Regions from separate parts of the Homo sapiens genome. Here region 2 is linked to region 1. A link means that fine-mapping ties the variant in region 1 to the expression of a gene that starts in the linked region. Tissue or cell type: whole blood. Region 1 holds a variant in brackets; the other region holds the start of a gene. All regions are shown on one strand. Distances are from middle to middle.

Region 1 (8,687 bases):
TCCCACCATTCCTGCCTTTAGCCAGCTTCAAGCCCAGCGTGGCCGAGCAAGTCACACTGCAACTTCGGCTCAGCTGAATGGGTCCTGAACCCTAACCTAGCCCACCCACCAAATCAGCATTGCACTGCAGCCACTGTCTGTCTCTGAGGTAAAACTGGAGCATACATCACTCTGACACTGAGCCAAATTCTGAGGCAAGACTTTCACTTTGTTTTTCCACCAGTTATTTTCTTTCAAAGGTCATTGTTCAGAAGAAAATAAAGGAGAGCTGGCATGAATATTTTCAGGAAAGGATAATAAACGAGCACTCATTCATTATTTTTGTTTATAAAAATCTACTTTCCTTTCTTGAGAAAAATGAAATAAGATGGTAGAATAATTACTAAAATTGGATGTTTAACAATAAATGGTTAAGATCACTTATCTTAGGTAAAGATATGTAAAGATGTATAAAGCCTTAAGCCAAAGTTATTGCTTACGATTGTGACAAACTTGAATTTAGGTGAAAAAAAACTGGATTCAAAAATGTATGGTTGGCTTAGATACAAACTTCTCACTGTGATGCTTGAAGCAAACCAAAATAAAGCCCTCCCTCTATTTTCATAGTCTCCTTTTTTCTATTCCCCAAAGTAGACCTCTCAATATAATTAAATCGTATTATTTCCTCTTCCAAAATATGTTTTACATTTTCTTTTATCTTTGTTAGAATGTTGCTACTGCTTAAAATGTACTTCCCTTCCATCCCAATTAATAATGATAAAAGATTTTATTCATCAGGAAGTTGTAACAACTCTAAATTTATATGTGTCTAATGCTATGACCTCAAAAAGAGTAGTTCATTTCAGGACTATAAAAAGAAATTTGTGAATCCACAATAAAAGAGGCAGATTTTTAACACAACTCTTACTAACCAATAGAATAAAAAGACAAAAAATCAGTAAGGATGTAGAAGATTTGAATAACAGCATAGCAAACTTGTTCTTTTCTGCTACACACAGAATATAGTATTTATTAAAACTGGGTTCTCAAGAAGCTAAAAAAAGAAAAGGAAATTAAACCACAAATGTAAACTAAGGAAATATTAAAGCTAAGAGCAGAAACTGGGTTCTGTCACATATCCTTGTGTTTTGGTTGTTGTTGTTCTGTTTTTAATAACTCTTTCAAAATATAAAAACCGTTCTTAGCTCACTGGCCCAAACAAAAACAGGCCATGGGCCAGGTTGACCTGAGAACTATAGTTTGCCCACTCCTGCTTTAGATCATACAGACATTAAAATGATCATAACAAGATATTACAGGCCGGACACAGTGGCTCATGCCTGTAATCCCAGCACTTTGGGAGGCCAAGGCAGGAGGATTACTTCAACACAAGAGTTCAAGACCAGCCTGGGCAGCATAGTGAGACTCATCTCTACAAAAGAAAAAAGAATATATTATTTTTAAAATTTCATGTCAATAAATTTTAAAATTTAGATGACATGGCTGGGCACAGTGGCTAAAGCCCGAAATCCAGCACTTTGGAAGGCCAAAGCGGGCAGATCACTTGAGGCCAGGAGTTTGAAACCAGCCTGGGCAACCTGGCAAAACCCCGTCTCTACTAAAAATACAAAAATTAGCTGGGCATGGTGGTGCACACCTGTAATCCCAGTTAGTTGGGAGGCTGAGGCACAAGAATCGCTTGAACCCAGGGGACAGAGGTTTCCATGAGCTGAGATCATGCCACTGCACTCCAGCCTGGGCAACAGAGTGAGACTCTGTCTCAAAAATAAATAAATAAAATAAAATTTAGATGACATGGACAAAGCACAAGCTACCAAAACTAAGACAAGAATAAAAAGTCTAAATGGCCTGTTAAAGATACTGGATTCTCAATTTAATTCCTTCCCACAGAGAAAATGACAGGCCCAGATGGTTTGCTGGTAAATGCTACCAAACGTTTAAACAGACTTTTCTAGAGAACAGCAAATGAGGCACTATTTCTCTTTATTTTTGAAGTTATTATGTTAATGTTGATATCAAACCATGACAAAAATGCTTCAAGAAAGAAAAAGTCTGAGTCAGTATCACTCAGAGCACAAATTGAAAAAATCCTAAACAAAATTCTAACATCAAATTTAGCAAAATATAAAAATCTGAGTTCATTCCAAGAGTGCAAGATTGGTCAAAGATTTAAAAATCAGTCAGTTCAATTTATCACATTAGTGGAAAAGAGAAAATTCATATGATCATTTAAATAAATAAAGAAAATACTGTGATAAAATTCAAAATCTATTCATTATAAAAATTCTCATCAAACTAGGAATACAAGGTAATCTTCTTATTTTGTTAAAGAGTACGAAAAGGAAAGATACAGCAAGCATTATTCTTAGCGGTGAAACGGTGTAAGCTTTCTACTGAGATCTGGAAAAAGATGGGTATGTCTGTCGTTACCACTTCCTTTCAACATTGGAAGAAGGTAGCCACCAGTACAGAAAGGGAGCCCAGCTAATACAGAAAAACAAAAGGGAAAGAAAATGAGGAATGGGAAATGGGGGGAAAGACTGGAAAGAAAGAAATAAGAAATAAAACCCAGATGATATGTGCATGTGTTCATAGAAGTGTCAAAAGAATGACAGAAAATTAGCATTAACAAGACAGTTCATCAAAATTGCTACACAAGTAAATAAATGCATTCCTTTTCCTACTTCAGGTCAGGAAGAATATTCTCCTGTTATGTTCTAGAAGCTCCAGAGGCTCCTAAATATATTACTTTATGGCAACAATAAACAGAAAATAAAATTTTTAAATGATACTATTTATTATAAACCAAAAATGTTAAATTATTAAATATTAAATCTAACAAAAGACATATAAGACCTCTATACAGAAAACTATGAAACATTGAAAGACCTTAAAGACTAAAACAAAAGGAGAGACACACCATGTTCATGAGTTTGAAGACTCAATAATGTAATGTCAATTTTCTTCAAACTGCTGTATAGAGTCAGTACAATCCCAGCTAAAATCTTAACCCATTTTTAAATTTGTTTTATATGTGTGTGTTTACATATATTATGTGTGTGTTTATATTTATGTGTTTGTGTATTTGTCTTGTTGTTGTTTTCATGGAATTGGAAAAGCTGGTCCTAAAATGAAAATGCATCAAAATGCAATTGGACCAGTCCGGTACCAAAATGGAAATATATGGAAATGCAATAGACTCAGAATAGTGAGGATACTCTCGAAGAAGAACATGATGCGAGGACTTACTCTACAGGACATTGATACACCCTACATGTAAAAATAATTAACACAATATGGTATTGATTAAAGGACAGACAATAAAACAATGAAATGAAAACAAAATTCCAGAAATAGACCTGTTCATATCTAGATCCTGAATTACAATTAACATGGCACTTCAGAATAGCAGGGAAAGCATAACTTTACAATAAATGTTGCTGACAACATTGGAAATCCCCATAGGTGAAAAAAAAAATGGACTCTAAACTTAATCACATGCCATTCAGAGAAAACAATGCCAGAGAGATTGCAAATTTAAGTGTGAAAAAACAAAATTCTGAAGCTTCTAGAAGATGTTAGTAGAATTTCTTCATGACCTAGATAGAATTGGAAAAGACTTCATAAACAGGGCACCAAAAGCAAAATCATAAAAAGAAAGACTAATTAAAGTTACTATATCAAGTTTATTGAGACATCAATAAGAGAGTAAAAAGTAAGCCATGAGTAGGAGACAATATTTTTAATATACATAAACAATTCTACAAACCAATAATAATAAAGGTGAACAACCAAATGGAAAAATGTGCAAGAGATTTGAACAGCCAACTCACAAAAGATGATATCCAAATAGTCAATGAATGTATGAACATGTGAAAGGTACTGAACTCATTGGTTAATGTAAACTCAGGGAAAATGTAAACTAAAAGTAGATAAAGTACCACTACAAACCCATCAGTGTGGCCAAAACTTAAGACTGAAAATACCAATCATTGAGGCATTCACTATTGTTTAGCATATAAAATTAATGCAATCTGCTTAGCAGAGTCTGGCAGTGTCTAAGGATTGAATACAAGCACACTGTAGATCTAGCACTTCCCCTCCTAGGAACAGATATAACAGAAATGTGTACATATGTGCACCAAGCGCCATGTAGAAGCACGTTCTTAGCGGTATTATTTGTTTTTGCCTCAAACTAAAAATACCCAAATGCCCATTAACAGTAAAATTGATAAATGAATTGTAGCTGTAATTCTATAATGGAAGATTAAAAAATACTGAAAAATAAAAATTACAGTTAAAATAAAATCCTGAGTAAATTTCACAAATATGACGAGCAAAAGAAACCAGCCATGAAAGCATTTATATTGTGTAATTTCTCACTATATAATTCAAAACAGACAAAACTAAACTATAGAGTTTAGCAACACATGCCTAGAGATAAATCTATAAAGCAAGCCAGAAGATGATTACAATAACAGCCAAGGGAAGATGAAGGGAACGTAAGTTGGATTTCTGGGGTGCTGGCAGGATTTTGTTTTACTTTTATTTTACATTTGGGGGGTACATGTGAAGGTTTGTTACATAGGTAAACACCTGTTGTGAGGGTTTGTTGTACATATTATTTCATCACCCAGGTATTAAGCTTAGTACCCAAGAGTGATCTTTTCTGCTCCTCTCCCTCCTCTCACCCTCCTCCCTCAAGTAGACCTCAGTGTCTATTGTTTTCTTCTTTGTGTTCATGAGTTCTTATCATTTAGCTCCCACTTATAAGTGAGAACATGTGGTATTTGGTTCTCTGTTTCTGTGTTAGTTTGCTAAGGGTAATAGCCTCCAGCTCCACCCATCTTCTCACAAAACACATGATCTTGTTCTTTTTTTGTTTCCTTTTTGAGACGGAGTCTTGCTCTGTCACCCAGGCTAGAGTGCAGTGGCGCGATCTCGGCCCACTGCAACCTCCACTTACTTCCAGGTTCAGGCAATTCTCCTGCCTCAGCCTCCCAAGTAGCTGGGACTACAGGCATGCACCACTATGCCCAGCTAATTTTTGTATTTCTAGTAGAGACGGGGTTTCACTATGTTGGCCAGGATGGTCTCGCTCTCTTGACCTCGTGATTTGCCTGCCTCAGCCTCCCAAAGTGGATCTTGTTCTTTTTATGGCTGCATAGTATTCCATGGTGTATATGTACCACATTTTTCTTTATCCAATCTGTCGTTGATGGGCATTTAGGTTGAGTCCATGTCTTTCCTATTGTGAATAGCGCTGCAATGAAGATTTTATTTCTTGATCTGGGTGGTGGTTACATGCCTTATGATAAATTATTAGGCCATACGTTTTTGGTTTTTTGGTTTTGTTTTTTTTTTTTTTTCAGACGGAGTCTCACTCTGTCGCCCATGCTGGAGTGCAGTGGCATGATCTCAGCTCACTGCAACCTCTGCCTCCCGGGTTCAAGTGATTCTCCTGCCTCAGCCTTCCAAGTAGCTAGGATTACAGGCACCT[G/A]CCACCACGCCCGGCTAATTTTTGTATTTTTAGTAGAGGCGGGGTTTCACCGTGTTGGCCAGGCTGGTCTCAAACTCCTGACCTCAAATGATCCACCCACCTCGGCCTCCCAAAAAGTGCTGGGATTATAGGCATGAGCCACTGCACTTGGCCTGTATATGTTTTAATTGCAAAATTTAAAAGCTTTTTTAAAAACCTTCAACATGAACCTGTTGGTGGTATCCAGTGATACTGCTACTTGCGGCAAATGGCCTGTTAAATTCAGTCCTGGCCTTTGCATTGTGCTTTCAGTAACCATATATGAAAGCCCAACACAGCAATTCTTACTGAAGCTATCATCTCACTATTTAAATGAAAGACTTTAGAATTTTTCTTTTTATGCAAAATGAATTGTAAGGATTTTCAGAAGAGAAAGAACAGCAAACATCTCAAACCACATGTAGTTTTAATTAAAACTCTCCTAGTAGAAAAAAAAAACGTTATCATCAGCTGCTGTATGTACCCTCTAGGACCTCCATAGGAGTGCTCTGCTTTCCTTAGGAGAACTGTCAATATGCACACACACTTGAAACAGATGAGAGACTTAGCAGCAAAGATCCTCATCCTGTGTGGTAGCCCATCACAGGAAGGGGCAATGGAGCCCAGTGAGTTCTCTCTTCACCATGGAGCTGCCTGCCACCCAAGACAGGCATTTAACGTGTTGGCTCTGGCAACCCTCACTTCCCTTGTCATTCCAATTAAGCTATTAAAATCAATGCAGAAGTCTTAGCTACTTGGGAGGCTGAGGAGGAAGAAGCATTTAGCCCAGGAGTTCAAGACCATCCTGGGCAACTTAGAGAGGCCCTGTCTCTACAAAAAGAAAAAAAAAAGGGGTTTTTTTTTAATTAGCCAGGAGTGATGATAAATTATTAGGCCACTACAGGCCTGTAGTCTGAGCTACTGGAGAGGCTGAGGCAGGAGGATCACTTGAGCCCAGGAGTTTGCTGCAGTAAGCTTTGATAGTGCCACTGCACTCCAGTCTGGGTGACAGGGTAAGATGCAGTCATTAAATAAATAAATAAGTAGAAGTACTTAAAGCTAAAGTGTTACAGTAGATGTTCTTAAAGGGGTCAGAAATTTGTACCCTGACTTCTTAGCAAGATGCTTTTCCACTTTGTTAACCTCAAAAAGAAAAAAGTCTAAAGGTCACACCTATATTCCGTGGCTTCATTGATTTCTTCAGTTTCTTTTCCACTAGGTGAATGTTTACCCTCTCGATATTTTTTTAAAATTTCTATTTGATATGAGAGAGTAAAAGTTTACACTTTAAAATCCTCTCCACTCACCTTCACCCTCCCCCAACCAAACCTCAGCTTTTCCTGGACCAAAATCTCAACTAGTGTCCACAGACATGGATACATACCTAGAGCAAAATAAATCAAATGGGAATTTTAATGCACTCAATACAGTTGAGCTAAAAGTCACTTATTTTATGAAGAAAAGATAACAACCTTTCTTATGCTAGAGCACACTCGCTTCTTGAACAAAGTTCAGTGGTTAAAGCTGGTGGGGAAACGACCTATTTCGGATGACAGATAAATAAATTCCAGGTTAAATACTAGAGAAATATCTTAATGAAGATTTTTTCAGACTAGAGCAACCTCCTGAGGGAAACAGTTTGAAGTGACATCATTTGAGACATTTAAATTATAGTGGATAAAGTACTCAAACCCACCACAAAGAAACACTCTTTGTAGAACTCATGGGAAAATTACTGGGATTTATAATAGGCCTTTTCTATGAGGAGGTAAGCCTGCCTACGAGGCAGACCTGCTATTGAATAAATGTTATTTTAAATGGAGTGTGGCTGTATTGTAACTCAGTTCCTCCTTCTATGGAGAAGAGCATGAATGGGTAGGTTAGCCAAAAAATTAATAGGTTTTTTCTTTTTAAAGCAGTAGATTTCTTCACAAAGCCTACCTAATTATGTGAGTTTTTCCTCAAGAATGACATGCTTCAATGCTCATTTTCTTTCAACTATTTTTTTAAATGTTATCTACCCCAGGACTTCCAACCCCCTTTCTCTAACAAATCAGCATGTAGCAGAGAAGTTCTGAACTAACACAGCTTTGAATGTCAAATGTTTAAATTTGAATGTTCTGCCTTTTCGATAAAATGAATTTAACAGTGACCCTCCAAGGATTTTCCACTTCCAGTCTTACCCAGAACAGCCCTCATTAAGCATGTAGCACTCCACAAAGAGTAAATCATTTATTTGGAATCAGCCCTTATGAGCTAGAAAAACTACCTTTCAGAAAGCCTTCATTTCAAAGGACAATTGCCATATTCTGTAAGCCTATTGATTTTTCTTCACTGTTGGAATGAAGAATGTAAACAGAATTGCATATTTACTCATTGCCTTTTCTGATACCTTTGCTCTGAGAGCTCAACACTTCTGTCCCACGTGTATGAAAGGCTGCTCTTTCCAGAGCTGGTCCGTGTGAGATGATTAATGAATGGCCAGACAAAATTCTGATTAATGCTCCACTATTAAGATTTGCCTTTACTTCAAGAGCTTTTTATAAGTTCATAGTTTTGACCCCACAAACCTTTCTCCCCTCCCCCCCCCGCTTGGTAATTGCTAAAGTTTGACAGCCACTGTGTTTGCTGCCTGTAACATATGGCTAATTGAATCAGAGTTGGGGAAAGAACCAGTAGATTCCTAATTATGATCCACTCCACAGATCTGAAGCCTGAATAAGCAGGAAACAAGGAAAAGGCTGCAGAGCCTAGAAAACCTATTATAGCGGTGATTGTAGCAGGATGCAAACATTTCTAAAACTGACTGAATATCATTTATTTAGAAAGCGTAGTTTGCTTTCTGTCTTTTAATTACACAAAGCAAAGAAAGATTAGAGAGAGATTTGCTTTTATCTGTGTGATTTTTGCACGTCTGGACACTGGACACCTCATATTCTCATAATCATATTTTAGTAGACATTTGCATTTCTAATAAGGCAAACACGCTGGATTTTCATCTTATAGGTTCTTCTCCATCCTCAACACTCCAGTTATGAAGACACATGTATATATTTTTAAATGCGTGTTTCAATTTCAAATGAATTTTTCTACAGCAGTTAATGGTAACATATGTCCTCTGAATTGCTTCCCCCGGGGTGAAGAGTAAGGCAATAAATGAAATATTCAT
Region 2 (8,687 bases), 67 kb after region 1:
AGTGAAACTACATTCTCATCCAGGCCCCAACTGACTTGCTGGATATGGCTTTGTCCGAGGTCATTTACCCTTTCTGTGCCTTAGTTTCCTTAACTGTTGAAAAACATTATTTACCATTTTAAGTTACTGAGAAGATGAATGAGATCATGCTCCAGAAACACCCAAAACTGGTCACAAAATTAGGTGCTATAAGAATACTAAGTAGTACTATTATTACTGTACTGTGCATCCTGTTGGAATGAGTCATCTTGCTGCAAAGATGCATAAGCGATTCCAAGTGTGGTAAAAGACCAGAGACAATGAGAAGAGGCAGTTTACTCTTAGATGGCATTAAGGGAGAAGATCCCAGTCGCAGTGAAATCTGCCCTTGTTCAACGAACAAAAGCAGGAGGAAGGGAGACAAGACTCTCTTTTCTTTTTTCTTTTTTTTTTTTTTTGAGACGGAGTCTAGCTCTGTCGCCCAGGCTGGAGTGCAGTGGTGCGATCTCCTCTCACTGCAAGCTCCGCCTCCCGGGTTCATGCCATTCTCCTGCTTCAGCTTCCGGAGTAGCTGGGGCTACAGGCGCCCGCCACCATGCCCGGAGAATTTTTTGTATTTTTAGTGGAGACGGGGTTTCACCATGTTAGCCAGTATGGTCTCAATCTCCTGACCTCGTGATCCGCCCGCCTCGGCCTCCCAAAGTGCTGGGATTACAGGCGTGAGCCACCGCGCCCAGCCAACAAGACTTATTTTTTAACTACAGGCATACCTAGGAGACACTGCTGGTTCATTTCTAGACCAGCACAATAAAGTGAACATAGCAATAAAGTGAGTCACACCATTTTTTTGGTTCCTAGTGCATATATTAGTTATATTTATTATACTGTAATCCATTAAGTGTGCAATAGCATTATGGCTAAAAAACGTACATGCCTTAATTTAAAAAATACTTTAGCCAGGCGCGGTGGCTCACGCCTGTAATCCTAGCACTTTGAGAGGCCAAGGCAGGTGGATCACCTGAGGTCAGGAGTTCCAGATCAGTCTGGCCAACATGGTGAAACCCTGTCTCTAATAAAAATACAAAAATTAGCTGGGCATGGTGATGCGCACCTGTAGTCCCAGCTACTAGGCAGGCTGAGACAGGAAAATTGCTTGAGCCTGGGAGATGGAGGTTGCAGTGAGCTGAAATTGTGCCACTGCACTCCAGCCTGGGCAACCAAGTGAGACTCCATCTCAAAAACAACAACAACAACAAAAAAAAAACTTTAATGGTTAAAAAATGCTAATGGATCATCTGAGTCTCCAGCAAGTCTTAATCTTTTCGCTGGTGGATCTTGCCTCAATGTTGTTGAAGGCTGCTGACCAGTCAGGCTAGTGTTGATGCAGGTAAGAGCAGTTGTTGCAGTTTCTTAAAGACAATAGAGAAGTTTGCTGCATCGATTGACCCTTCCTTCCATGAAGGATTTCTCTGTAGCATGTGATACTGTTTGACAGCATTTTACACACAGTATAATTTCTTTCAAAATTGGAATCTATCCTTTCAAACCCTGCCACTACTTTATCAACTAAGTTTATATTATATTCTAAACTATTTGTTGTCATTTCAACAATATTTACAGTATCTTCACCAGGAATAGATTCCCTCTCAAGAAATCACTTTCTTTGCTCATCCATAAGAAGCAACTCCTCATCCCTTCAAATTTTACCATGAGATTGTGGCATTTCAGCCCCATCTTCAGGCTCTATCTCTAATTCTAGTTCTCTTGCTATTTCCATATTTCTAGTTACTGCCTCCACTGAAGTCTTGAACCCCTCAAACTCATCCATGAGGGTTGGAATCAACTTCTTCCAAACTCTTGATAATGTTGATCTTTTGGCTTCCTTCCTTAAGTCACAAATGTCCTTGATGGCATCTAGAATTATGAATTTTTTCAATTTACTTTTTCCAGATCCATCCAAGGACCCCCTATCTCTGGCAGCTATAGCCTTATGAAATGTACTTTCTACATAATAAGACTTGAAAGTCACAATGACTCCTTGATCCATGAACTGTGGAATGCATGTTGGGTTAGCCAACATGAAAACAACACTAATCTCTTGTATGTCTCCAGGAGAACTCTTGGGTAAACAGGTACACTGTCAATGAACAGAAATATTTTGAAAGGAATCACTTTTTCTTTTCTTTTTTTTTTTTTTTTTTTGAGCAGTAGGTCTCAACAGCAGACTTAAAATGTTCAGTCAGCCATGACAGATGTGCTGTCATCTAGGCTTTGTTGTTCCATTTATAGAGCACAGGAAGAGTATATTTAGCATAATTTTTAAGGGTCTTAGAATTTTTGGAATGGTCAATGAGAATTGGCTTCAACCTAAAATCACCAGCTGCATTATCTCCTAACAAAAAAGTCAGCCTGCCCTTTGAAGCTTTGAAGCCAGGCATTGACTTTTCCTCTCTAGCAGTGAAAGTCCTAGATGGCATCTTCTTTCAATAGTAGGCTGTTTTGTCTACATTGAAAATATGTTTAGTGTATCCACCTTCAATGATCTTGACTAGATTTTCTGGATAACTTGCTGCAGCTTCTACATCATTTGCTGCTTCATCTTGCACTATTATGTTACGGAGATGGTGTTTTTCCTTAAATCCCTGATAGCTTCAACCTTTTCTTCTGCAGCTTCCTCAGCTCTCTCAACCTTCATAAGATTGAAGAGAGTTAGAGCCTTGCTCTGGATTAGGCTTTGGCTAAAGGGAATGTTGTAGCTAGGTTGATCTTCTCCCCAGACCACTAAAATTTTCTCCCTATCTGCAATGAGGCTGTTTTGTTTTCTTATAATTCATGTTTTCACCAGAGTAGCATTTTCAATTTCCTTCAAGAACATTTCCTTTGCATTCCCAACTTGTCTAATTATTTGACACAAGGCCGAGCTTTTGGCCTCTCTTGGCTGTTGATACATCTGAGCTTAATCGTTTCTAGCTTTTCATTTAAAGTAAGGGACATGCAACTCTTCCTTTCACTTGGTCACTTAAAGGGCATTGTAGGGTTACTGGTTGGCCTAATTTCAATATTAGGCCATTATTATTAGACAATTATTAGTGTTTCATTTCAGGGAATATGGAGGCCCAAGATGAAGCAGAGAGACAGAGGAACAGCTGGTTGGTGGAGCAGTCAGAACACACACATTTATTAAGTCCCTGTCTTACATGGGCTCAGTTCATGGTGCCCTCAAAACAATTTCAACAGTAACATCAAAGATCACTGATTACAGATCACTATAACAGGTACAATAATGAAAAAGTTTGAAAGATTGCAAGAATTACCAAAATGTGCCACAGAGACATGTAGTGAGCAAATGCTGTTGAAAAACGGTGCTAGGACTTGCTTAATGCAGAGTTGCCACAAACCTTCAATTTGTAAGATGTGAAAGATCTGCAAACAGCAATAAAGTGAATCGCAGTAAAACAAAGTGGGCTTGTACAGCAAGGAGGTTATACAAATATACTTTTGAAATCCTACAGCCAGTTTGAATCCAGGCTTTGGCAGTTATTACTATGACTGGGCAAACTACTGTGTTTTTAAACTTCATTTTTCCTATCTGTAAAATGGGGATTTTTTATAGATTGTGTGTGTGTGTGTATATATACACACACACACACACATATATATATATACACACATATATATATAGTTGTTGTGAAGATTTAAAAATGTACACCGTCACAAGGACTCCATAAAATAAGCTATTATTGTAATCTATTGGAGACAGGGCAAGTAAAAATCCACACTGATGTTAAGTGAATCTTTAAAAACAAGTACCAGAAAAAGACGAGTTTTTATTTTATAAGATATGACCTAAGGGGCCTAGGAAGAGAAAAAACTTGTTTTGTCAAGTCTAAATCCACTCATATTTCATGGGGCCACGTATCACGTCCAACCTTTGATATCTGGCACACAACAAACAAACAGGAAAGGCCTTTCGTGTGCTTTAATAAAAACAGCTTTCCATTTTAAAACGATAAATATATTGGAAAAATCTGTTGGCTCTCCAACAGCTCTTATAAAACAAAGCTCAGACGCTGTGTTTTTGTTGTTTGAAAGAGAGAAATCAGGGGCTTGGGCATTATTAGGCTCCCTTTGATCGCGCCCTGGGATGGGAAGCCTTCGGGCAAAGCCCTGGGGGCAGGACGCGTTTTTTTTTTTTTTTTTTTTTTTTTTTAATCGATCCCGGAACCTTCGCGCGGCGGAGGGGGCGGGCGCGCCGCAGGGGCCCGAGGGAGGGGTCTGGGGCGCGGCGCCGCTTGCCCATCCCCCGAGCGCGCGGCGGGGCGGCCGGCCGGCGGCCGCCGGGATGCGGAGGGGCGGCGACGGGGGCCGGACCCTGCCGGGGCGGCGGGGCGGGCACCGCCCGAGGGGGTAGGGCGCGCGCGGGGGCGCGCCGGGCCGGGGAGGCGCGCTCGCTCCGCGCTCCCTTCGCTCGCTCGTTCCCTCCTCCCTCGGCAGCCGCGGCGGCAGCAGGAGAAGGCGGCGGCGGCGGCTAGGGATCAGACATGGCGGCGGATCTGAACCTGGAGTGGATCTCCCTGCCCCGGTCCTGGACTTACGGGATCACCAGGGGCGGCCGAGTCTTCTTCATCAAGTAAAGAGCCGGGGACGGCACGGGGGCCCGCGGGGGCGGGAGGGCAGGAGGCGGGCGGCTGGCGACACGGGGGAGAGCCCGGGTCTGTGCTCCTGCAGCCCCTCGGCTCGCCCCCGCGTCCCCTCTCACGCTCCGTGTCTGCCCCTTCTCTCACCCCTGCAGCGAGGAGGCCAAGAGCACCACCTGGCTGCACCCCGTCACCGGCGAGGCGGTGGTCACCGGACACCGGCGGCAGAGCACAGGTAACGCCGGGCCCAAACGGAGTTGGGCTCCGCCTGGAGGAGGCGGCAGAGCCCGGGCCGCCCGGCTCCCCGCAACCTGCCCCGCGCCGCGGGCCCCGGGAGGCGGCGAGGCGGGGCGGAGGCCGGGCGGGAGCGGCCGCAGGTAGAGGGGCCACGGGGACTCCGCCGCCGGGAGTTCTCTCCAGTCTCGGGGCGCCTCTTTCTCCTCAGCCTTTCATCAGCACTTGGAGACGGCGCCCTCTTCCTGCGCCTTCTCCCCCCATCCCAGCCTAGACGACCCTCGCGACCCTAGAGTGGCGACGCTCCCCTCCCTGAAACCTGGAGTCCTGAGTTTTTCCTCCGCGGCCGCTACTCACTCCCCGGTGACCCCCAGCTGCCGTCTTGCCCCCCAGCAATCTTCAGGCAGTCCTTACCCACTCCCCTCCCTGCAGCCCCGGACCCCGATCGCCCGCCGGGATAACGTAACCACATCCTCCCCCTCCTCCCAGGAGCGCTGCCTCCTGCCGTGCAGCTTCCTCCTCCTAGGTGGGACTTGTGGGTAGGTGGCTGATGAAGGAGGAGGAGGAGGAGGAGAGGAGTTCGGGGGTGCTGCGATCCTCTCTGTGACAGGGAACGGCTCGGGAAACGCTTGGCGCGTTCCCTCCTGCCACGGGAGGAGCAGCCGGAGCCGGAGGAGGCGTTCGCAGCCTCAGTTGCTGGCGATCCGGATCTAAAGTCCCCGCCAGCCGCACGGAGGTTGCACAGACTGCCAGGAGGCGGTGGGCGTGCGAGGGGGTGTCCCGTATGGGGGCACCCGGGCCCTGTTTGGAGGGAGTCCGTGGGGAAGCGGCTCTCTCGGGTGGCTTTGGGAGCTTGTTTGAATGCTAAGTGTGAGTGGAGCTGGAAAAGGCTCCTCGTAGTTTCTGTACTGGTCTGGGTTTCTTTTATCATTCTTTGTTTACATTCGTGACTTGTTTGTCTTTGAAATGTAACATGTGTTCTCTTACTGGCCTGCCTCTAGTCCTGGTGATTGGAAAGGCTTGAGAGCAGTTTGGGTCGAAGGCGAGGCCAGTTTCAGCAGTCCTCAGAGCTGGCCTCTGGGGTACATTCTCTCGGACTCTGACATTCCGTGAATCTGTTAAAGTTGCCAGGATATTGAACAAACCTGCCTCTCTGTGAAATGCTGGAGTTCACTGAAGTGACTAATGTCTCCAAATTTGCAAAAAGGTGGAGGAAGAAAGGAAAGGCTGGTGTAGCAAGCATGATGAGCTTACATTTTTAAGGCATTTCTGACTAATACACTATCATGTTTCTCAATTCCCCGGTGCAGGCTTTTGCTTCAATATACCTTTCTGGTGTTTTACACGCATATTCCAACTTTGATGGCCTCTTTGCTTTTATGGATAATGATAGATTTATTTCATGAAAGACGATATGACATTTAAATTATTTAGACTAATTATCCTATGGAATTATGAGTGATATAAATAAGTGTCCTAGTTAACCCCACAGATTTGGTAACATTCACGCCACAGAAAAATTTTATTCTTTTATGTGATTTCACTTTTTTTTTTTTCTGGTTTGGTTTTACTTTGCTTGGACTCTGGTTTTGTACACACATCGGTTGTTTTTACTTCCAAGAGGCATTTTGATGAAATCCAAACAACTTGTCATTAATAATAATATGTAGCACATAATGACCATTGTTCACCTGAATCATCCCCAACTTTACTACTTGAAACTTCACGTCTCTTAGTCAAATTTTTAGAAACACACACGGAAGTATTCGGTGTCATTTCTTTTCCATTAATTAAGTAGTTAGGAAGTTCTGCCTTCTTTTTGGTGACACTTCCTAGATGGATTCATTTGTGTAGCTGAAAAATACGGTCTTAAATAGACACAATATACCCAAGAAGAGGCAGGCGTTGCCTGTTATACCCAGCTTTTTTTTTTGCTAGTCATTCATGAGTGTTCCACCTGGGATGAGAAGGCTTCCCTTTGCTTTCTTGGGTGCCAGAACATAGTTCCTCTCCACCCTAATATATTACAGTGTGTGCTCAGGTCAGATAATCTCTAATATTATGGTTACTTTTCTGGTGGCTCTAAATTTGAATTGCTGTTTTTCAAAAAATGATATCTGTTGTATTGCCAGCTCAACACTTTTTTTGTTAGTAATCTACTTAATTAAAACAGCTAATAAATGAAAATGGATAATTAAAATGGATTGAGACTTATTTTGCTATCATTGAAGTAATACTAATTGTAATATATGTATTGTTTTAGATTTGCCTACTGGCTGGGAAGAAGCATATACTTTTGAAGGTGCAAGATACTATATAAAGTGAGTTTTTTGACTTTCATTTTTTTCCTTCGTAATTAGAATGCTGTGATTACTCCTCAGCTGAATAGTTGTATGTCCAGTCTTGATCATGATTTTCTGAAGTTTATCATATAATGGTGACTGTATTCTTTATTTTGTATAGTGTCAGAATTTTGAGAGAAGAAAATGGCACTCTTACTTTTCTAATGTTATTTGCCTGGAATATTCATCGATTCATTGATTTGGAAATTAGATCATTTATGGCCACTTTTAAAAATAATTTTGTATCTTCGTTTTTTTCTTTTGGAATCGTCCAGCTTCATCAGAATATGACCACAATTACCTTTTTTTTTTTTTTTTTTTGGTGCTTCTGTGTATATTCCTGGGTAATAGAGGATTATTGGTCATTAGCTATGTGGTACTTAAAGTTTTGATCTTTGATTATCTGTGCTGAGAGATAACAAACAAAAAAAAATCTGAGTTACGTGAACATCTTTTTTTTTTTTTTTTTTTTAGTGAACCTTGTTCATGTATATTTTGACCAGGGCTGTTTATAGGTAGCAAAAGTGATGTAAAGCTAGGCACAATTTGATAAACAATGACGGTCAGGGAGTAAAAATAGAAATAGTTACTGAATATTTCATGAGCATATATTGGAGCATTGTTTGTATTTTTGCCTCAGTTTATTTAAATATGTCTAAGTCAAGATGTTTTATTGATATGTTTGTTTAAAAAAGGCTTTTAGTAGAGCTTGAGAGAAAAGATGACCAGTCAGTCCCAATCTTAAAACCAGTTCTTTAGAATATTAAACTAATTTATGTTCAAACTTAATAACTTAGTACTACTTGGAGACAAATACAAAGCTGGAGGTCAACATCATGTAGGAAAAATTTTAATCCCCCAACGAAAAATATGGGTGGTTTTGTCTTTTTATTTTTATATTAGAAACTATTTACCTAAGAGTTTGTTTTTATTGTTTAACCTTATTTGTTCTTTAATTTTAATAAACTGAGACATGAAAGAGAATGCTGAAATGCCAAACTGGGTTAAGACTTCAGTAGTTTATAAACAATAACAGATACCTAGCTAAAGTTACCTTTATTTCATTGAGCCTAGAAAGTTATTTTTACTGTGACATTTTTAAGATCATGTTATACTTCCAGTAAATTATAATTACCTGTATGGTTCTTTAATCTTTTAGAAAGATACTTAGATAAAACGTCAAGGGCTTTTTTATAAGTATTAGGAATGCTTGCTTTTGGATGTAGAAATAGAGAAAGCAGAAGATACAGGAATGGAATAGTTTCATGGTATGGTCTTTCTGTGAATATTTTTGGGTGAAATCTTTTCTTTGGAGATTATACTATACATTATTAGATGGCCTAAAAAAATACTTGAGTGAAATGCAGTCATCAAATGTTTTTCTATTGGTTATTTCCATCCTAAATTAAAGTGAGTTGATATTGCCACGAAAAGGGATACTTCTTTTCTTGTCAAGCTAGTAGTATGGTATATGTGAAGAAAAACAGTTTTTTCA

Evidence for each region.
Region 2: PLEKHA5 starts here. The variant in region 1 is fine-mapped to the expression of PLEKHA5 in whole blood (TOPMed, PIP above 0.99).

The regions. Positions count from the first base shown.
Region 1 is chr12:19,058,757-19,067,443 of GRCh38, forward strand. The region is part of intron 1 of LOC107984527 (a long non-coding RNA gene); the gene reads left to right. Among named protein-coding and RNA genes, the nearest start is that of PLEKHA5, 67 kb to the right of the region's middle. The variant G/A (reference allele first, on the strand shown) is at 5,501.
Region 2 is chr12:19,125,280-19,133,966 of GRCh38, forward strand. PLEKHA5 (pleckstrin homology domain containing A5) reads left to right here and starts at 4,454. Exons shown (of 32, transcript NM_001256470.2): 1 at 4,454-4,609; 2 at 4,772-4,851; 3 at 7,114-7,171. The coding sequence starts at 4,521.